Regions from separate parts of the Homo sapiens genome. Here region 2 is linked to region 1. The links come from fine-mapping of genetic effects on gene expression. Tissue or cell type: whole blood. Region 1 holds a variant in brackets; the other region holds the start of a gene. All regions are shown on one strand. Distances are between the middles of the regions.

What was found. PIP is the estimated chance that this variant, and not a neighbour inherited with it, causes the effect.
Region 2: it holds the start of MTARC1, and the variant in region 1 is fine-mapped to the expression of MTARC1 in whole blood (TOPMed, PIP above 0.99).

Annotation. Positions count from the first base shown.
Region 1 is chr1:220,812,615-220,824,194 of GRCh38, reverse strand. MTARC1 (mitochondrial amidoxime reducing component 1) reads right to left here. Exons shown (of 7, transcript NM_022746.4): 7 at 4,536-10,903. The coding sequence ends at 10,777. Among named protein-coding and RNA genes, the nearest start is that of LINC01352, 11 kb to the left of the region's middle. RefSeq lists enhancers at 4,975-5,666, 10,279-11,478. The variant G/A (reference allele first, on the strand shown) is at 6,366.
Region 2 is chr1:220,782,067-220,793,646 of GRCh38, reverse strand. MTARC1 (mitochondrial amidoxime reducing component 1) reads right to left here and starts at 6,734. Exons shown (of 7, transcript NM_022746.4): 1 at 6,428-6,734; 2 at 1,983-2,156. The coding sequence starts at 6,702. MTARC2 (mitochondrial amidoxime reducing component 2) reads right to left here. Exons shown (of 8, transcript NM_017898.5): 8 at 8,832-9,728.

The DNA of each region.
Region 1 (11,580 bases):
CACACACACACAGAAATCCACACGCTCTGCCTGAGTCTCCAGTTCCACCCCATAGAGAAGCACACAAAGAAATGAGAATAGGTCTCCTCAGCCCTGCTAACTCACAGGAAATACAGATGGCTAAAAAGAAGCACTGTTATTTAGCATCCATGCTCAGAAAGAAGGAAATCTAGCAGAAACCAGAGCTGGTATCCAAGAATGCAAAAACATTTTTGGGGGGATGCTTCATGCCACAATGCCCCAAGTTGGAAAAAAATGTGCCATTTCATATGTTTATAACAACATCTGATTTAATATTATACAGTTTTGCTTAGTCACAAACCAGAACAAATACTGTCAGATTTATTACATCCTTCTATTCTGAGACTTAAGTAATCATAGTTAGCAATGGAGCCATTCCACAGCTTAAGGGAAAGCTTTACAATTCTTTGGGACCTATGATTCCTGAGAGGCAGGTTATTTCAAGAATTTAAGGTTTTAAAGCTCTCAGTGGAGCTTGAAATTCATCCCTTACATTTCACATGAAAAGAGTTTCCTCTGAAGCTTGGCTAGGAGGGAGGAAGAGAGGAAAACAAGTTGACACAGACTCTCACTGAGCTCTTAGAGAATGGGGCCATCGTTCATCAACATTCCCAATCTTTACCTTGCCTTTCTTTAAAAAGAAAGAAAGGAAAGGAAGAGAGGAAGAGAGAAAGAAAGAAGAAAGAGAGAGAGACAGAGAGAGAGAAAGAGAAAAAGAAAGAAAGAGAAAGAAAAAGAAAGAAAATACCATTGGCACTCATGCTTTTAAAATCGTTAATGCTGTATTTGGGACCCCCTTATCTGTTGATTCACTAAAAGAAACTGGTTGGTTGTTATAAGGAAATTAAATTTTCTTACAAAACATGCTTTCTCATTTACTCCCCCACACATGCATGCACACACGGTCATTTGTTACATGATATGTGGACAATCGTTAAGCCCCAAGCATTGCCTCTGCTTGGCTGACAAATTCAGGATTCGTTAATGATGTGGTCATTGACTTTGTTGCGTGGAGGCTCAGGTTGTGGGTTTGGTGCCTTCAGAGCTTCACTCCCTTTCAGGGCATACACGATCCTCTGCTGCATCCAAAAGTGGGGCTGTGGTCCCCTGAGGGCTGGGGGAGGTGTGTTTGGATCAGTGTGACCCCATCACTCAAAATGAGCACATCCATGCTTAACCATGAAGTAGTCTAATGGGTTCCATTTTTCTCAGAAAGCCAGAATTTGTTCCTCCAGTATTTCTTTACATACCACTAAGAAGAATGTCAACATTAATGTGGGGTGAGTAGGAGTGATGGAAACTTGGTCTACAGAAAATCAAGTAAAAGTTTTGAAGAGCTTGGAGTCTTTATAAAAATGAGAATTTCTAGGTTCCATTGCAGAACTACTAAATCAGGATATCTGAGAATCTGACACAGGAATCTACCCATGGTTCACAGGTGATACAAATACACACACCAGTCTTAAAGGTCCTTTCAGTAAGTCATAAGCAATTGTTTTAAAACAAGATTGTAGGATCAAACCAGTTTCCGGATGAAGGTACTACCACACTTTGAATTCATTCTTGCCAACTTATTTTGTAGCATTGCCAGAAGGCACAAGCCTTGAGTTCTAACTCTAGCCCATCACCTATAATGTGGACAAGTTAGTTAACCTCCCCAAAGCTCAGTGACATGCGTTATGCATTCAGAAGAAGAATGATGATACGTAAGCAGCTTACAAAAGACTTTCACATCTATCCTACCTCACTGGGTCATCAGCAAGATCTAATCATATAGAGTGGATGAAGGTGCACTGCAGGTTTCATGGCACTTTACAAATGCAAGGTACACTGGGTTTTGTTTGCAGGTTTTAGTTTTGTTTTGTTTTGTTTTGAGATCAAAATATCTGCTTTTTTTCTGATAGAAATTCCATTGCTTTTGTATTCCTAAACTACATCCTCCAGCCTAGGTTTTATCAATAATACTGAATCCCAATATTGAATTTATCTCCCCAGCCTTGCACAAAACTGGAGAACTACAGGTATCTCCCAACTAGGGAAGGGTCTTTTCTGCCAAAATCACCACTTGGACCAAAGGGACCAGGGTCCTAGCACCTTGAAGGCAGCAAGAGCCCAAGTAGAAAAGAGAAGGAGAAAGAGCAGAGCTCAAACTCACTGCTTCCAAATTTACCAATCAGATCTCCCCCAAACAAGAGAGTGTGAGGAGGCAGAGAGGGGCCAAGACTAAGGAATGTCTCTTCATTTGGACATACGAGGGATGAGTGTGATTATAACACATTTATTGTAGCTAAGTTATCTGTATCCCCAAATTCCTCAATTTTTTGTTCTTTGAGCCCATTGTGCTTACACATTATACCCAGTCATATATAGGTATATATATTATAGGGATAGCATCTTCAGAGAGGGAATAAACTCCTACCCCCATCTCCAGTGTCACTTCCATGTAGATCTTTCTAGAAAGGTACTGTGTGTTTTTGCCCCATAAGGTTCTGAGATGGGCCAGTACAGTACATTGTGTTCTTCAAGGCCTTTCTGTAGTCAAGATAAAAATTGTCGATCCTTTTCTATTTTCCATCTCAAATTATGTCCAGACATCACACTGCCCAACAGAACCTATCAGAGACTGTGCAGCAAAATCAAGTGATATCACAAAGGTACCTCAACAATAAAATGACAATAAGATGCTCTAGATTTGAACATAAACCCCTCTAACACCAAATTACCAAGGAGTCTGAAGTCCAAAATTAAATTCCAAGTTAAGGGCCAAAAAAGGCAAAATGAGAAATTAAAATCTGAAGTTAAATCATCTCACTCTCAAGTTCAAAAACATTACATTGCAATTTCTTATTCTTTTTGGTGTCAGCAAGAAGAGTTCTGAATGGGCTGCGTGGGATCGGTGTTCTTTCAGCAGCAGTAGCCTAGGATGCCTTTCCAGGAAGGGACTTTAGAGTTGGGATTAACGCAACTCCAAGTCTCTGAAGTGTTGTACCATTTTAAGTTATTTTTTAATTGTGGTAAAATATATGTAACATAAAATGTACCACCATAACCTCCTTTTTTATTCTTTTAAAGACAGGGCCTCACTCTACCACCCAGGCTGGAGTGCAGTGGTGTGATCATAGCTCGCTGTAACTGTGAACTCCTTGGCTCAAGCTATCCACCCACCTCAACCTTCCAAGTAGCTAGGGCTAAAGGCATGCGCCACCATGCCTGGCTAATACTTTCATTTTTTGTAGACATAGGGTCTCACTATGTTGCCCAGGCTGGTCTTGAACTCCTGGCCTCAAGTGATCCTCTTGCCTTGGCCACCATAACCATTTTTTTTTAAGTGTACAGTTCAGGAGTATTAAGCACGTTCACTTTGTTTTGCAACCAATCTCTGGAATTCTTTTCATCTTGCAAAACTGAAACACTATACCCATGAAACAACTACTCCTCATTCTCCATTCCCCCATCCACTGGCAACTAGCATTCTACTTTCTGTTTCTATTTTATGTCTAGAACAGTGTGACTGCTCTAAGTACCTTATATTAATGGAATCATATAGTATTTGTCCTTATATGACTGGCTTATTTCACTTAGCATAATGTCCTCAGGGTTCATCCATGTTATAGCATGTGTCAGAATTTCTTTCCTTTTCAAGGCTGAATAATATTCCATTGTATGTATAGGCTACATTTTGTTTATCCATTCATCTGTCAGTGGACATGGGCTATTTCCATTTTTTTTTCTTTTACTATTGTAAATAACGCTGCTATGAAAATGGGTGCGTGTACCTCACTTTTTAAATTGCTCAAGAAGTTCAAACAACACAGGAGATGATCACAGCACAAATTTAGAAAATAATCCAGTCCCCAGTCCCAGAAAATTTATCCAGGCAAAACTCATTCCTAAAGCCCAATACTTGGTGTTGCCAAAAACGACAGCAGATTCAGAAGGGAAAATCGCTTTAGAAGATTCTTCAAAGGGAAAAAGGGTAAATGGTTTTAAATGAAGTGCTCTTCATTCATTGCCAGGTGACCATAATCCTTGGAGAGGCTAATTATGGCACCATTTTTGTTTGTTTGTTTGTTTTTTGTTGTTTTTTTTTTACCATATCTGGGGGAAATGAACTCATTCCTGTAAAGAGTCTGCTCTGACAGTAGCATTTGAGACATTACTGCTTTAAATGCATTTTCATGGTTCAAAATAATAGCACTATTAAAAAATGTTTCTTCAACAAGGATTTGTTTTCTCCCTAAGAAGCTTAATGTGGACACTACAAATAATGACCAAAGCTGCTGAGTATGGCATAACAAAGAGAAAACAAAGCACTCATCCTGTCCTCCAGATCATGCCCAGAACACTGTCTACCAACATGTGGCTTGCCAACTGGAATGATGCAAATGTCAGACCCACATCTGTGGAAAAGGGGCTCGTCCCACAGGAAACAAGCTATTGGGGAATGGGGAGAATGATATAATTAGAAATTTAAGACACAGTATAACTCAGAAAAATGTTGGCTGGGCAGCACATTGCTAAGACTTGAAATCTTTATTTTGTTCTCTTTTCAAAAGCCCTGTGAGCATAATGAGCAGAATATAGCTTTAAGAACTAAGATTCACCCCATCAGGCATTAATGGTGTCCAGAAACTATGTGAACAATCTTACTTGACATCCCCAAGACATTTATATCTGTCCAATGCAAAATCAGAGGGGGGAACATGTTAATTTTCTCAGCCTTTTGATAGCATATATACAAGATCTCTTAGCCCCACAAAAGCTCCAGATATATTCTCTAGGACTTCGACTGCCTTAAAATATAGACTTGCATTTATCTTGGCCACATTAACGAGATCTGTTTGACCAATACATTTATATTTATGATGACTGAGGGCAGATTATGGTTGTTAAAATTTGTCCTTGGGACATGAAAACACTCTTCTGTCATTAATACATTTTATAATATAAACTATGATGTCAGGTCAACATAAAGGGTAAAAACGTTCCTAAAGTATGCACACATCATTTTTTAAAGCAATTGAGCCTAATGGAATAACAAAGGTCATCATAACAAACCATTACAGCCTTGGTCTTGGCAACTCTGGCCACAGAAGAACCTCCAAGAAACGATCATCATTCCTCCAATGTTATGGCATCCAGACGACAGGAATGGCTCGCAAATGAGTCATACGGGCTCAGATCCGCGGTAGCTATGTGAGCGCTGGACGATCAATTATTCATGTGTTTACAAAGAGCTTTCCCGGTTGATGTTAACCAGAGCTGCCTGCAACGAAGAGCTCTCCAGCTGTCCTCGGCCGTCCTGGGCCTCGGACTAACAAGCGGCTTTAATTGCTGGGCAGGTCATGTGGAAGGTGCTCCTCCCTTCAACCCAGTAAATTCAATCTCTCTGAGACTTTGTTAGGTGTAAAAATGTTAATCAGAAATAATTATAACAACAATAGTTTATTTACAGTACTCCCAGTAAATTCTAAAGAGGGAGACAAAAGTTAGACTTAACTTAGTTCCCACAGGGATCCACCAGGATTGGAGACTGACCAATACCAGGTCAGGGATTGGTAGAGGGCATAACAAATGCCAGGGAAGGGGAGGGACTAGGGGTTGTGGGTTTCACAAGGAAGGTAAGAGGAAGAGCAGTCTAGGATGCTCTGTAAAGGTAAAGGAGCATGACTGAGGACCAGCAAGGGTGAATGCACTAGACTGGCCAACAAATAACCAAATGTGAGTGAATTTGACCTGCCTATCAAAAATGGCCTTGGAAGAGGCTGAATGGGAAGTCACTTCTCAGTCCTTTTTGTTACTTTACACAACCTACAGCCTGTCCAGGAAGAATAATAATGTAATTAAGGCAACTCTTCTCTCTGAGCCAGGCCACAGAGCATGGGAGCAGGTGCCCCACCACCCAATTCCTCAGCTGTGTTTGGAGGAAGAGCAGAGTTATAGTCAGAGCTGTGGCCCAAGCCTCTTCCTGTGAAGAGAGTGTGGTCAGAGCAGACCAAGGGATGCCTCAGGGACTTTTTTACTATCCCAATTCCAAGAACATCTGTGGTACCGAGCCAGATTCTTCCTCTTGCTTGAAATTGGGTAACTTTAGATATCATCATAACTCATTCATCCATTCAGAGAAAGTGGTTGAAGCAAACAATCTCTGTTCTTGCAGACAGCAAAGCACAGTAGTGCTTTGTGCAGACATAGATAGAGTCAGGGCCATAGGACTTCTGAGGTAATTCTGCTTTGTAGGGTGGAAGGCAACACTAGTTGAGAGGACTTGCAACAGAAAGGAAAAGCTAGGGCCGGGCGTGGTGGCTCACAACTGTAATCCCAGCACTTTGGGAGGCCGAGGC[G/A]GGCAGATCACGAGATCAAGAGTTCGAGACCATCCTGAACAACATGGTGAAACCCCGTCTCTACTAAAAATACAAAAATTAGCTGGGTGTGGTGGTGTGCACCTGTAGTCCCAGTGAGAGGTGAAGCCAGCTGGACTTCCTGGGTCTAGTGGGGACTTGGAGAACTTTTCTTTCTAGCTAGAGGATTATAAATGCACCAGTCAGTGTTCTGTGTCTAGCTAAAGGATTGTAAATGCACCAATCAGCACTGTAAAAACTCACCAATCGGCACTCTGTGTCTAGCTAAAGGATTGTAAATGCACCAATCAGCACTCTGTAAAATGGACCAATCAGCACTCTGTAAAATGGAGCAATCAGCAGGACATGGGCAGGGACAAATAAGGGAATAAAAGGTGGCCACCCCAGCCAGCAGCAGCAGCCCATTTGGGTCCCCTTCCGAAGCTTTGTTCTTTCGCTCTCCACAATAAATCTTGCTACTGCTCACTTTGGGTCCGTGCCACCTTTAAGAGCTGTAACACTCACTGCGAAGGTCTGTGGCTTCATTCTTGAAGTCAGCGAGACCAAGAACCCACCAGAAGGAACCAACTCCAGACACACCAGCTACTCGGGAGGCTGAGGCAGAAGAATTGCTTGAACCTGGGAGGCAGAGGCTGCAGTGAGCTGAGATCTCACCACTGCACTCCAGCCTGGCAACAGAGTGAGACACTGTCTCAAAAAAAAGAAGAAAAAAAAAAAAGAAAGGAGAAGCTAGCAGAAGAGAAACAGGGCACCCCTCCCTGGTGCATGAAGCATCCTGGAGCACTTTCATCACAGGTGGTTTTGTAACTTACATCACAGGTATTGCTGTAAGGGCAAGGTTAGAGAGAGTTTGGTTTCCCTTCCCTCACCCTGATCCACCCTATCCATCCAAAAATGCATGTTTGGAAAATGATCCCGAAGAAAGAGAGTGCTTCTCCCTAAGGCCCACAACAGGAGAGCTGGTCTAAGACACTTCTCCACACCTCCTTTAACCTATCAAGTCCCAGTTCCATCCTTTTACTCCAGCAAGAGGGGCAAGGGAGAGGACAAGGGGAAGTGTCCCAAGATAGGTCTCCTTCACTTGGCGGGAACTTTTAACTTCTTCAGTCTTCCCATGAGTGCACCCCTCCTGCTAACTGGGATTCCTTGGCTCACTGGCATTCTGCCTAGAGATCAGAGGATCATTTCTCAAAAGACAGTCAAAAACAGACCTTTGGGAAGGGCAGCATTAAACACAGATGTCTTCATGAAGGCCTCTCCAGAGCCTTTTGCCTTTGAAGAGAAGTGAGGCACGCAGGACTTTCCAAACTTACTGGTCCATGGAATTGTTTTTAGAAGCATCCCGAAAGGCAAACTTTCAGAATTCCATGGACCAATAAAACACGGGAAATGCAGTGTTAGGGTGTGGTAGCAACACTCCGATTATACCCACAATCAAGGTCTGGTCTGAGAGCCACTCTGTCATTTTCAAGGAACTTTAATGTATCTGTTCTCCACCATCATGGGTTGCTTTAATTTGATACACTCTTGGAATGCTGGGAGCACTTGCCTGGAATTTCAGCCTGCCATCACTGTTGGTGACAGCCTCATAAATGGTTTCCCGAAGTCCCATTTGGCTAGTCTAATTTACCCAACCTCCCCATGCACTCTTACCAAACTGGCAGACCCTCACAAGCTCATCTCCTCACCATGCCCCGTTATCAGTAAAGGGAGAAGGAGAGGAGGAGTATTTCTCCCTATAGGACAACGGCCTGAATTCCAACAGCCTCCCCTTCCCCAATTTCTTTCTGCCTTCGTGTGTATAAGTTGCTGCCCTCGTCTTTCGGTTGGAAGTTTCTAACATTTTCTGCAGGAGAGTCACAAAAGCAAGCCTTTAGGCAGCCCCTCCGGAGCCTGGCCCACATTGTCCTTTTCAAGACCTCCAGCTCTGAGTTTGTGACTCCCCACTGTGGCTGCAGCATAAGTTGCCACACAGAGGAGATGCCCACCGAGGGTGGATATTTTGGCCTGATCTCAAACATCTGTCATTTGCTGTTGTAAGATCTGAAAGTCTGGGATGGCCTACATTCCTGATTCTATATTTCAAGTGGAATAGTGTGCAAATGCTCAGTATCCAAAATAAATGGGATATCAGCTTTGTCTCTGGCATTAACCAACTCATTAAATATAAAATAAACACAAGTAAATGGCCTTTAAATCTCACTGACAGAAAGCTTGGCAACTACTCTGAGATTCTAGAGGTCACTGGAACTTCTCTCTTCAAACAGGAATCTTCCTCACACTGTGAGGCACAGAAGGACAGGTCTGCCCAGTGAGGAGGGTTTCTGGGTGCTCCCTTCCACGTGGGTGCTGCCCTGCAGAGCTAGCTACCCCGAGAGCCTGTCCATGGAGAATGATGGTTACTGCCCGGACGGGGCACAGAGAAGTGGCTGTTAGTTCTTACAAGTGGTTAGAAATTCAGGACTAAGGCTTTCACTTGCCACTAATTATAAATACCTAGGAAGAGCCACCAAACCTTGGGTTTCTGATTGCTCCCTACCTATTGGCTATTCCCAGAGAGCCCATATTCACATGGTTTCCTAAATCCTGTGTACACTCACTCTCCCACGGGTCCCCCGGTCCCATTAGTAATGCTACTTGCTGAACACTTCGCTTTGTCTCAATCTATCTGTAGTTTCAACATCAACTGGACTTGTTGGGGAAGGTGATGGCCCAGGTTCTCTGGAAAATTGATGTAATTATTCACCTCATGCCAAGCATGCAGAAAACAAACTGTAATAATTCACCAACCATAAAACAAGCACATGCACCTCTTTGCTCAGAACTTTACTTCAGGGCTCAGCTAGATTTCAGCGATTACTGACCTCTTTTATAAAATCAAAGTGAAAAATGTGCAGCTTTTGGTAAAAAGCATGTTGACTTGATAGTCCTTCAAACATGGGTGCTTGCCTGGGAGGCTGTGGGTGAGGAGGTCCATTATGCAGAAGACCCAGCTGTGGTCAGGTGTCAGAATTACTGGCTTTGCCCATTCACCTCAGTCAGCTTTCTTTTTTTTTCCTGTTTCTTTTTTAGAGATAGGGTCTCACTCTATCACTCAGGCTGGAGTGTAGTGGTGCAATCATAACTCACTGCAGCCTCAATCTCCCGCTCCTGGGCTCAACCAATCCTTCTACCTCATCCTCCCGAGTAGCCATAGCCAGGACTGCAGGCACACACCACCACACCGAGTGCATTTTAAAAACATTTTGTAGCGACAGGATCCCATTATATTTTCTGGGCTGGTCTCAAACTCCTGGGCTCAAGCCATTCTCCCACCTTGGCCTCCCAAAGTGCTGGAATTACAGGCATGAGCCCCTGTGCCCAGCCTCAGTCAGCTTTCACAGTCTAACTTTGTGCCAAGAAGTTAGTAAGATCTGAAACTAGTCAAAGTAGCTTCCATTTATTCACAGTTTTAAAAACATTTTTCAAGTTTAGTCAACTTCCCAATATAATCAAAGGACAAAATGGCAATAAAAAATATACTTCATCAGATCTTAGAGTTATACAATCAGTTAAAAAATAGATATTGGGTTTTAAACAACTGACATATGCTTTCCTTTTCCCCCTTTAAAGGTTTTCAGTAGTCTATCTGAAATCACTGAATCACTTTTCTTCTCCTCCACAGAATTCAGAACTTTTTCACCCGGAACTGGAGAAGGAGCACTCCGTCATTAGCTGAGGGGAATGGCAAGGATCCAGGGGTCCTCCATGACTACACAACCATCCTCCTGAGCACCTTTAGGAAATCCAATGCTGTCTGAGAAGCAGCAGGGCCAGATCCAGATCTATGGAAAATTAATATCTGCAGTGCTTCCTGAAGGTCACCTCAGTCTTTATGCCATTTCAAAAGCTAGCCCGGGGCTTGAGAAGAAAAGGGAAGTGGCATTCCAGCCATATTTGGGGTGCAATTTAATTTTCATTGCGTACCTCATGAACAGGGGCAATAACACATTCTAGGATATTCTTCCAGCCCACCCACTCTTCCTCTTTCTCTTCTTCTCTTTCTCTAACGAGTGGTAGTGACAGGATGCAAGTCTGCGCTCTTGGTAGATAAACGGAGAAGCAGGAGAAAGAACTATTCCATAATCAGTTAAACGGGGAGTTTTCAGAATCCTGTCTTGTCATTTAAGTGACTTACTGAAGTCCTACTAAGTTATTGAGACTATATTTCTTTACTTTTTGCACTGGGACATTGAAGCATTGAGACACCAGAAGTCCAAAAGACGAAAAATGTGAAAATCACAAATTTAAAGAAAATGTAGAGGTCTCAGTTCTGAAACACCATGCTTCAAGTGTTGTCATTTTTGAGAACATTTTTAAAAGGCATCTAATATTCCAGGACATACGGTTCCCATTACTGGCCCAGCAGGTACACAGGGTCTCCCACTTTGATGGTCCCTGGGTTTTCCAGCACAAAATACTGCCCAAAGAGTGGTGATTTTCCATATAACTTTCGTTCTGAAGGGTCACACTGGCGATAACTGCAATAGGAAAAGATCATGATGAGTCACAGCCAAGCGGATGCAAGAGCTCAACCAGCACGTGGCTTCCATCCCACACAGGGCCTCCGCACGCACAGCTCGAGAGGGCACCATCCCGTCAAAGCTCAACAGAACAGCGCCTCCTGGAGTGGGGCAGTGAACAGCCTGCCCAGCAAACAACGACAGAAGCATAAGCAATGGCCACATCCCCACATCTTTTCTCTACCTTCATGTTCCCCCTTTCGGCATTAAGACGTTAGATACTTGGCCAGGTGTGGTGGCTCATGCCTGTAATCCCAGCACTTTGGGAGGCCGAGGCTGGCAGATCACAACCAGGATGGAGATCAAGACCATCCTGACTAACACGGTGAAACCTCATCTCTACTAAAAATACAAAAAATTAGCCAGGAGTGGTGGCAGGTGCCTGTAGTCCCAGCTACTCGGGAGGCTGAGGTGGGAGAATGGCATCAACTTGGGAGGCGGAGCTTGCAGTGAGCGGAGATTGTGCCACTGCGCTCCAGCCTGGGCAATGGAGCAAGACTCCGTCTCAAAAAAAAAAAAAATTAGATACTCAATGTGTCTAGACATACTTTATCATCTTCCTTTGCCCTAGGCATCTTTCCTCCTGTCTCCTCCATGTCTGTCACCTGAACCACCATCCTAGCCGTCACTTGGGC
Region 2 (11,580 bases), 31 kb after region 1:
TAACATCTTCGACCATGAAAACAGGTGTACTGCCTGTGATCACGACCCCAGCGCCCCAAGAACTCATCCGAAATCTTTAGGAAACTGTGGGCTGAGGTTACAGCTCCCTCATAAGAGAATAGGTTGGGCTGTCAAAAGAAACCTGAATCCAGAAGATTCTTGGAATCTTTGCTCGAAGAGTCTGTATACTACCGTAGCATGTCTAAGCCTTTTCATTTTGCAATTTGCAAGCATGCCCTTGTTTAGTCTTTTGGGCATGGACCAAATGCCCATATGGGACTGTGAAAAAAGTTTCAACACAATTTCAAATGAATTAAAAATTAAACAAAAAAATTAACTGTAAGAAAATATGGGTAAATATCTAACCATGGCAAATAAACACAAATCAAGACATGGACAAACATGAAATACAGATTGCAATATAAGTATTTAAAAGCTTACCTCATTCAGGGAAAAATACAAATTAAATTAACAAGAAATTATCATTTTTGCCCATAAAAATGGCAAAATGTTTTTTAACATAATGGTTAAAATGGAATTGGTAAAACCATTCTGCAAACAATTTAGCAAGGTGTATCAAAAGCCTACAGGATCCATATTCTTATTTCAAGCAAAACCACTGCTAGAATTTTTTCCCTAAGAAAACAACAAATGATATAAACAAAGATTTATGCCAAGATATTCATCACATTCTTCTTAATACCTGGAAAAAAATTAAGACAATCAAAATGTTTAATCATGGGGCATATTAAAATGCATTAGAGGACACCCACAAAATGAAATATTATGCCAACATGAAAAATGGTATCCTTAAAGATTTTTTAACAATATGAAAAAATACTCAACATATCAATTTAAGTATATAAACAATATTAAAGGATTTTTTGTATTATTTCAGTTTAGTTTTTAAGTAGTAGGCATAGAGACCGAAAGAAAATATGCTGCAATATTAATTAGTTATCACAGATAGTTTTTGTTTCTTTTTTTTTTTTTTCTTGGTATTTCCCAAATTTTCAACAATGAATATGTACCACTTTTCTAATCTGAAAAGCCACCAAATTCAAAAAAGTATATTATCAAGTTTAAAACTCTAAAATGTAGAAATTACATCAGTATTGCATTTTGTGAACTTTTCTGGGTCTTTAGACGTTGTTCAGATAACTACATTTTTTGAGGTGATGCTATTTTTTTATGATAGGCTATAAACTACATTCACACTGCATCTTTATTCCAAATGCAGAAACTATAACAAGAATATAACTGGACCAACTCTAATTTTCCCATAATCAGATAAGAAATCAACTCTAGACATGACTTCTTGGAGGCAAAACTAGTTTTCCTAGAAGAATTGCTTCATTGCAGCCCTTCTGATGTTGAGGGAAGGGCTTGTGTACAGAACATCCTCCTGGGTTACATCCCCAGCCTCATTCTGACACTGACCCCTGGGCAGCCGCTGGCTGGATCACTCTTCTAGCTAGAGTTGTTCTTTTCTATTTTGGAACTTCCTTTCATTAGAACTAAATCTTACGGGTCACATAGCCATTTGCAACTCCTTTCCTAACTCAGACTTGGAAGGTGCCCAGTTTTTCTAAGCCAAGAAGAAAAAGTTCTATGAGAATACGTAGATCGAGTTTCACCTCTGCTAGGACACTCGCCCCCACCACTCCCACCCCATTTTTGTGCTTGATCTTTGGGTGCTGTTATTTTTCTCTTGCTGACATGTCAATATGCTTTTGTTCTCATGGGTTTCTACATAGCACTTTCATGTCTGTCATCTCCACAACACAAGTTTCTGAAGCTGCTTCCTTCTTTCTCCTTCTTTTAGATCTTCATAATGTTGAGGACTTCATTCTGTATATGGTACACATGCAATCAACGGTTCATTATTGATATGTTTCTCAGCATTCCCTCTAGAGTTTATGCTTTCTCAAAATTGCATGACTATTCATTCACACAAGGGCTACGACCTGCCCTTTCCTTACCTGCACTTGTGCACTGCATTTGTGGTGGGCGTTTTGATAGGCAGTAGTAGGTCCTTTGTGTAGGCTGCACTGAGAGTCAGGGTGTCACCATCGCAGGTCAGGGAAATCAGGACCAGGCGAGGTTCCTGGCGAGCAGTAACCATGTTTCCCTCCTGGTTGATCACAAGCCAAAACCTGCCGTTTTCAAAACACAGGATATGTGTGAACCATTATGGCAGGAAGCCAGACCCTGGAGGAGCTTCAATTAGACACTGTTGTCATCTTTGATTTCTTCCCCATAAGCCTGGTGTGTGTGAGTTTGAGTGTGTGTGTCTGTCTGTCCTAAACATCAGCACACAGGACTGAGTCTGTCACTTAATTTCAAAGGATTTCATAACCACTCAAGCATCCAACATATATCTGGAGAACAGTTTGAGCTCTTTGATGGCACAGAAATCAAAGATGTTAATTATATTTTCATCTCAATCTCTAGAAAGCCTGATCACTTTCATTAAACATGCCCCAAGCAGATGACAAGAATCTATTTTACATGAAGACCTCAAAGGCAGGAGGAAGCACAGGGCCTGGCATCTGGTAGGCAACGGGCTCTTGTCAGTGGAAATAGCAGGACTGTTGCTTATATTGTTCACAGGGCATGGAGTTCAGCTGAGCAACACACAGTGCCACTTATACTCTGCCAGTTCCAGCCCCCCACCTTTTAAAAATTTTATGTTCCAACATTCAGTGCTGTCCATTCTGCAATTTGCTAAACTAGACAGTATTTTTTTCTTCTGGCCCAGTATTCCTGGTCTACAGGTACTTCCTAGAAAAAAAGATAAATGGAGAAATAAAGGTAATAGAAAGAGCCATTTCCAGAACAAGAACAACATGTTTTTGCAGGTTATCTCTCAGCTACCAAGGAAGCAAAACATATTGGCATTTCAATCCTTACAGTACACACTGATCAAATGATTACAATTATAGAAGTGAGCATGTGCTTTTGAGATTTCCAGACATAAGAAAAAAATATGGCCGGTACTTTAGGTCGTTCAAGATATTTCTTGCATCACTTCCAGCAGGTTATCATGGTTGAGTTGTTCAGCTACACTAGAAAAATATGCTTAGTATAAGCCCTTTCCGTAACTGCCCTTTTACCAGACTTTGTTTCTGCACAGACAGAGGCCTGCCCTGACCCAAATCCTTGGGACTAGCAGGTGAATATTCTGTCTAATATTCTTCCTGGTAATGGCAGTTTACATCGCTCTAAAATGCAAATCTAACTTTATGACCCCCTCATTCAAAATCCCTCCATGGTTCCTGCTTTCAGGATAAAACCAACTCCTAAACAAGGGCGTGCCCAGCCCTTCATGATCCAGCTGTTGCTCCAGCCATTCTTACCTCCCGAGGTCTTCACACAGGCCAGTCTTTTATATATTTATTTTTTAATTGCAGTAAAATATATATAAAACATAAAATACCTAGCACACTCCTACGTATAGACCCCAAAGAACTGAAAACAGGAACTCAAACAGACATTTGTGTATCAATGTTTATTGCAGCTTTAATCAAAATGCTGAAAAAGTAGTAACAGCCCGAGTGTCCATCAACAGAGAATGGAATTTTTTAAATGTGATTTTAACCATTTTGAAGTGTGCAATTCAGTGGCAGTAAAGTACATTCACAGTGTTGTGCAACCATCACCACTATTTGCAAAACCTTTTCATCACCCCAAACAGAAACTCTGTACCAATTAAGCAATAACTCCTCGTTTTCCCCTTCCCCCAGCCCCCAGTAACATCTAATCCACTTTGTCTCTATAAATTTATCCACTAGACATTTCATATAATTGGAATTATGCAATATTTGTCCTTTTGTGTCTAGCTTATTTCAATTAGTATTATGTTTTCCAGGGCCATCCATGTTGTAGCACATATCAGAACTTCATTCCTTTTCATGGCTGAATAATATTCCATTGTGTGTATATACCACATTTTGCTTATCTACTCATCCATCAATGGACACTTAGTTGTTTCCACCTTTTGGCTACTGTGAATAACATCATAATGAACATTCAACACTCAATGCTGCAAAGAACATTCATCCTATTTATGTCCCAGTTCCTTTTGGTAAATACCTTAGAGTAAGCTTGTCCAACCCGTGGCCCAGGACAGCTTTGAATGAGGCCCAACACAAATTCATAAACTTTCTTAAAACATTATGAGATTTTTTTTGTTTTTGTTTTTGTTTTTGCTCATCAGCTGTTGTTAGTGTTAGTGTATTTTATGTGTGGCCCAAGACAATTCTTCTTCCAATGTGGCCCAGGGAAGCCAAAAGATTGGACCCCTCTGGCATTGACTATGCCAGCCTTTCCCCTAGCATACCCCATCCTCACAAGCCGAGTGTCTTTGCCCAGCTTATTCCCTCTCTAGAAAGTTCTTCTCCCAATTTACTTGCCCAGCAAGTTCTGAATCGTTTTCCAGTTTTCAGCTCAAGCTGTTACTTTCTCTCTGATGTTGTCCCTGACGGCCCCAGCCAGCTTCCAGCACTGCATCCTCTATGCTGGCACCCTGGCACGTGTCGCATCCTCTATGCTGGCACCCTGGCACGTGTCACAACCTCTGTTTAGTCTAGTCACAACCTAGGACTGTAAGCCAGTGTTGGCTTCTTTTGATCACACTTTCTGGGAGTGTGTGATGAACGAAAATAAAGAATTTATCATAGTGTCTGGTACAAAGGCCAGCTCTTCTTGTCATCTATTGTAATATGAGCTCAAAAACTGCTTTTTGAATCTAAGTAGTAAAATTCCAGTGCCCTTTGCCTCTGGGGCCTACAAAAACTCTACCACTTTTCAGAGCCTACTATACGAAACATGGATTTTTTTTTTTTTTGAGACTTAGTCTCACTCTGTCGCTCAGACTGGAGTGCAGTGGCGAGATCTCTGCCACAGTGGAGCTCTGCAAGCTCCGCCTCCCGGGTTCACGCCATTCTCCTGCCTCAGTCTCCCGAGTAGCTGGGACTACAGGCGCCCACCACCAAGCCCGGCTAATTTTTTGTATTTTTTAGTAGAGAAGGGGTTTCACCCTGTTAGCCAGGATGGTCTCAATCTCCTGACCTTGTGATCCACCCGCCTCGGCCTCCCAAAGTGCTGGGATTACAGAAGTGAGCCACCGCGCCTGGCCCAAAACATGGAATATTTAGGATTCTTGGCTTCCTTCCTGAAGCAAAGATGCATACGTCACTCACCTTTCAACTATGTCATGAATTGCCCTCTGTCTGGGGAGCTGGTAGGAGAAAGGTTACAGCTCCCATTAGTCCTGTGTTACTTGCTGAACTGCGAGGGCTGCTCTGGAAAGGAGTTTCAAGTGCAGCCTCACAATAAGACCCGAGGCTGGCCTGAAGCCAGACCCTAAAGAGGACAAAGCTGCCGGCTCCCGGGTTTTGCAGCCTTCGCTGAACCCCAGGAATCCACGCAGCTCTCAGAACCCAGACAGGACATTAACAAAGTCACTCTTTACAAAGCCCCAGTGTGCTAAAGAAAATAAGAGTCCTGGTTCTGCTGCTGTGTGGCTCTGAATTCAACTTCTTTATCCACAAGAGTGCTTGAGAGCATTGGAGAGAATTGGGGAAAATAGCATCTGCAATGCCCCCACAACTCTTTCTTTCTTTCTTTCTTTTTTTGATTCGGAGTCTCGCTCTGTTGCCCAGGCTGGAGTGCAGTGGCGCAATCCTGGCTCACTGCAACTTCCACCTCCCGGGTTCAAGCTATTCTCCTGCCTCAGCCTCCTGAGTAGCTGGGATTACAGGTGCGCGCCACTACGCCCGGCTAATTTTTGTTTTTTTGTTTGTTTGTTTGTTTTTAGTAGAGACGCGGTTTCACCATGTTGGTCAGGCTGGTCTCGAACTCCTGACCTCAGGTAATGCACCCGCCTCGGCCTCCCAAAGTGCTGGGATTACAAGCGTGAGCCACCGCGCCCGAAGGTATTCGTTGAACTGCTGTCATTACTATTATGAGCTCCGCCTTGGTGCGCTCTTGGAGGGCTGGACTCTACAGTTCAGCTTTCTCCAAGATCTCAAGAAAGTCACTCAAAATAGCGACTGGGAACCAACCTCTTCAAGCTAGCCGCCTCCACTAAATGGAGATTAAGAAGTTTGCTCACTGGCAGACACCTGGGAGCGATACCACACCTCAGCAGGAGCACATGACGCCAAAGAGCCAGTGGGAGGTGGAGATCCGCCCACCCCGGGAAAACGGGTCCACGCGCTCAGAGTCCCAGAGCCCTGGGGTCTGATGCTGGGGGGTGAGGGTTCCTTTTTCTCTTTGGCCTTGTCTCACCCAACTCCCAGTTTCTTTGTAATAGGAGGAAGGACCTGTTAGCAGACTCTGCAGACCTCCCCTGCGCTCCTCCCTTCTCACCCCCTTGCCCCGAGCCGGATCAGCGCTGCCCCGCGCCGGCGCTTGGCCGTACCTGTCCCGCAGGTTGCCGCTGCGCAGCCCCATGGCCGTGCACTCCGCCTCGCTCACCGGCACCCCCTTGCAGGATTTCACAGGGTAGATCCAGAGCTGCGCCACTGTGCCCACCTGCTGCAGCAGCCGCCGGCGCCGCGTGGGCCATGCGCGGCGCCAGGCGACAGCCCCCAGCGCCACCGCGGTCAGGCCCAGCGCGGCAACCCCGAGCCACCCGGGCCGGGATTGCGCGAGGAGGACAAAGCGCGCCAGCGCGGAGGAGCCGGCGGCGCCCATGGCTGGCTTCTCCGCGAGGTGGCGGCGGCAAGGCCGGAGCGCGCTGGTCGCCCGGGGCCGCTGGGGGAAGGTGCGGCCTTTGGCCCCGAGCCCAAAGGCTGGGCAGCTCCTGAACCCTTCCGGGCCAATCAGAGCAGTGCGTCCTTCTGGGGGGCGGCGCGGGGAGTGGGAGGTGGTGGCTCAGCTTCCACTTGGTCGGCGCCCCACTGCCTCTGCAACCTTCCGTCGCCTGCGCTGCAGGGCGCTGTGCCCTCCCCCACCCCACGATCGCTGCAAGTGACCAATTTATTTACTTACGTATTTATGGGGTTATTTGACCTAAAATAAACAATATACAACATTTGCAGGACAAAGCGTGATTTTGAAATTAGAAATCAGACAGCTGGCAGCAGCCTCTCCTGGGAATAGTGGAGAGCTGGTAGGCCCTGCCTGGCCTGTGCAGTGTCCAGCTCTCTGCTGCCGCCGCCCTCCCCTCAGTCTGCCCAGGGGCTAGGAGCTTCCAGAGAGTGGGGGTCTGATGAAGGAGGATGCTACCAGGCCCTCCGCGCCGGCGAGCCAAGGCCAGAGTTCTCCCGGCGGCCCCTGGGAGCGGCAATGGGCGTCTGAGAGTGCCTTCTACACGGCTCGGGGACGCTCGACTCCTACCGGCGGGGAGCCTCGAGCTGGAGCTGCATTGGCAAGGGCCTTGGCTCAGTTTAACGCTGCACAAGGTCCCCGGGCTGCTTCCGGCGGGAGGGAAAGTCACTTGGTCCTGCAGGCACTCACCTCAGTCACTTGTCACTTCCAAATCAGGTTATATTCCAGACAACAATGTTAGCATACCCCGAACAGCGTGGTTTAGGAGTCAGGCTCCTGCTTGATGTACCAAGCTATTAAAGGAAAAAAATTCCCTCAGACGCTTGTTAAAAAGGTAAGGAAGACTATTCAAGGCTACTGTAACAGGGGCATCACAATAGGGGAAAGAGATTAGGCTCAACTCTGTATTACAGCAAAGACAGCTCAGGATTCATAGCCAAGGAGCGAAGTTCCTCGGGGTCAGTGAATGGAAAATCACTAAGCGGAGACATCAAGTGTAGAGGATTCTTGATAAACCCACTTAACAGGATTCTACTGAACAAGGCAAGGACTTACACACTGAGGGTGACATATGAGGAATCTGAGCAGACATCAAGGGTGATCAGATATTAAGGATGGGAGAATACTCTGGAAACTGACTAAGCAGGATTCTTGCTAAACTGGGCTCTGCAGGGAGTAGGGTGGCAAGGTCAAGGCCTCATGAAGAAAAGGGCACAGGAGAGTCCGAAGTTTGGTCAAGGAGAGTCTGTGTTATCCCCAGCTCAGCCATGGTCCCCTGAGCCAGGAGTGTACATTGCAAGACTCAGCCAGAATTGCCCATGCAGGGCAAGGGTGCATGGATGAGAAGCGGGAGTTCGCCAAGAGAAAAGAACAACACTCTTCCTCCAGCTGGCAACTCACTGCAGAGCAGTTCAGTGCTCAGGGAGGCTCTGTCTTTATTGGCCTGAACACTTATCTGTCCTGTTTTTCTGCTCTATTCTCTTCTCTTCCAACCCCAGGTCACACCTTGTCTGTAAAGGACACAGCTCAGCAGGAGGCACGACTTGATCCTCCTCGGAAAGGCAGTTCCGGGGCACCAAATGTGCGTTTCTGTTTATCTCCCTCCTGAATTCCTCTTTGAAAATTTAAGAGGAAAAAATGGCTTCCCTATTTTAATGGCTGACTTTGAAGTTCTGATTTTTCAATTTCATCACTTCCAGAATTTACCCAGGCCTACAGCTCACTTACCACTTTTACCTCACAGGGTGCGGGGAATGGTGGTGAATTTCAGTCCCAGAACCCAGCAAAGGAAAATGGAGGAGGAGGGAACAGCCACTCCTCACTGACCACTAGGAAGGCCCCTTGCGGACACTGGCCATCCTGCCACAGACAGGCCACCTGTGTGCCTGCAGCTCACAACGCCCTCGCCCCCTGCCAATGACAGAAGCCAGTGTTTGTGGAGTCAGATTGTATCTCTGGAGGCAATCAGAAAGGGTAAGGAAAAATAAATTGCAGTGACTCAAATTCTAATATAAAGAGAAAAACCCAGGAAGAAGACTCATAAATACCAAAGATAAAGCAGGATTGAGATTCACATTTATTATTTACAAAGAAACCATAAAATTGTAAGTAGGTGAATTCATCCACATACTATTTCAGTGAGTATTTTTGCTTAAGATCATACCAAAGTTGTTCGTTTCTTTGTTACGAAAAAATTATTTGCACTGAAAAAAATATGTTCATGCTGTCTTCCTTGCATTCCTACTCTCAAAATTCCATTCTCTTTTAAATGTCATCCTCTTCCTTATCTTACTTGGAATTCCAGGTGGTATATCTGGCAGTTACACACAAACAGATTACTTTTATGTGGCTTAGTAAAGGTGTAATAGAGTACTAAAACTAAGTCTATAAGAGAATTTCCATACTCAAGTACAGCCCAGATTCCATAATGCTAGAGTAAAAAGCACATGAGTGGAAAGTCAACAGGACTCAATGGCCACATAAAGACCAATATTAGGCATTTGTGAGTGTGGTAACATGCGTCCTGCACATCAGGACACAGTGATCTGTTGCTTCCCATTTCTCCCAAAACATAGACTGATAGGTAATAAAAGGCACACATTTTAAAAACATTTTTGCAGCTTTTTAGTTGATTCATTAAACTTGCTTTATTCATCAATATTAAAGTCAGGAAGTAAAAGTGTAATAGCCATGATAACATTCAAAATAGCATTTTTGATGATCTTAATTATTTTTAAAGCCTTCAGTACCTAAAATTTATATATATACTTTCATATTCCCCCCTCTAATACTTTCCTTGCATTAACCTGGAGCATACACAACTTTGAAAAGTCAAAAATCGAGATTGTTTTCCAGGGTAAAGATAGTTGAAGGCTGGATAATAAGGATTTGCTGATGTATCGTTGCTGCTGTTGTTAAGATCTCAGTCAATCCCTCCTGGTTGCTGAAGCCTGAATAAATAATAAGAATCTCTGGTTATTTGGTTGTTTATCCTACTGTTCATAAATAATTCAAACTCCCACAAAACAGTCACTTATTGAGGTTACACATATAAATGTATGGTGCAGTGCTGTGCAGAAAGCATGGCCCATTAGCTCTAACTCACATCAGCTCCCAGGCCCTACGTCAGCTGACCTATCTAAGCCTTTGTTTCTCATCCATAAAGTGCCTGTTATCATATCTATCTCACAGAGATCCTCTCACAGATAAAGATTACACAAGGCCTTCTGGGCAGCAGAGACAATTGGAAATTGAGGCTGAGTGAACCACAGATGTTTGTTGCCTCCATCCACTGCAAAACAGGATCTGATTGGATGAGTTTGTGACGGAGTGATATGGAAAACCCTCAATCGTTATGGTATCTCACAGCCATTGGGCTCCCTCAGATGCAGAGAACACATGAAAGCCCTTGGCTCACACAATGATCCAGGTCCAGTCAATCATGACTGGAACAGCAGGACACAGGATCAGTTTCACTCAAGCTAGATGGCTCAGGCTTGGGTCCACTCTCCCCAAATGGGGCTTTTAGAAATGCCAGGTACTTAGGAGCTTCACAGTTTCCCCTCTAGTATTAATACTTATTGTATTTCATCAAATCCAAGATATACCAATTGTAAGATGCACCATTATTATATGCATCACTGATAATTTTATGCATCACTGATATTTTTCAAAAGGCATCCTGAATGTTATAAGAAGCTGACTGATATCAGAGATGTTAGAATAGGATCTCAGAACGGATGAAATATGTTATGAAATATGGTTATGGTTATGCAAATACCTAGTCATAACAGTCATCAATAGAAGTGTAGCTCCTTTTTGCCCACCTCAAAGGCAAAGCCTGTGTCATCTTTATACCCACTATGGAACCTAAGACTGGATCATGATGGAATGATGGCAATAAAAAACATAACTGATATTTACTGAGCACTTTATTTGTGTTGCAGCGCAACTTTATATGAATTAATACTCAAGATAACTTTTATTGCTTGTTTTGGTAAGTACTATTATTCCCACTTTGCAGATAAGGGTACTGAGACTTAAAGAGAAGTTAAACATCTCAACCAAGTTAGGAAGATGCTTGGATTACAAACCCAAGTCTATCTAATGCTAGATCTACACCTTCTAAGCCACTGTGTTACACTGTCCTTAAGGAGGGTCAGGTTGTGGGTGTCAAGACTACAAAGGCAAGTAACACACGTGAGAAGCTCAGGCCAGAATCAGAGAGAAGGATGGTCAAGAGTTTTGGAGATGAGGTAACTTAAAGAACTGGGTCATGGATTTTATGAGAAAACTTGCTTAAAATCTCCAATTTGAGGTCCTCTGTCCAACTTTCTCATTCCTTTAATTTGGGAGTTAGGCTTTTGCCTCCAGGAGTGAGGGCTGTATTGGACACAATGAAATCAATGTGAGAACATTATTTTCTAACTCATGATTCAGGACCCAGTCACCATGATGCACTGATTTTTTTTCAAACTTCAATTATACTTTAAAAATACATTTGATAAAAGACATTCAATTTAAACATTTCCCAAGCTGATGTTGAATAATTTAAACATTTTCCCTTCTATCTGAGACAGAAAAAATAAATACATAACTCTGAGAATGTACATAACTCTGAGAATCAATCACCTTCATTTCCCTATTCCTTAATGATATTCTGTAATGAGCTGTGAACATATACCTGTCTTTCTGCTGAGCCTCTTCCATCAGCATTTTACCATTAAATGGGAAATAGGGGTGGAGAAGGCTGAGGTAGGAGTACACAAATTACTGCAGGGAACAGAAATTAAGGGCATTTTC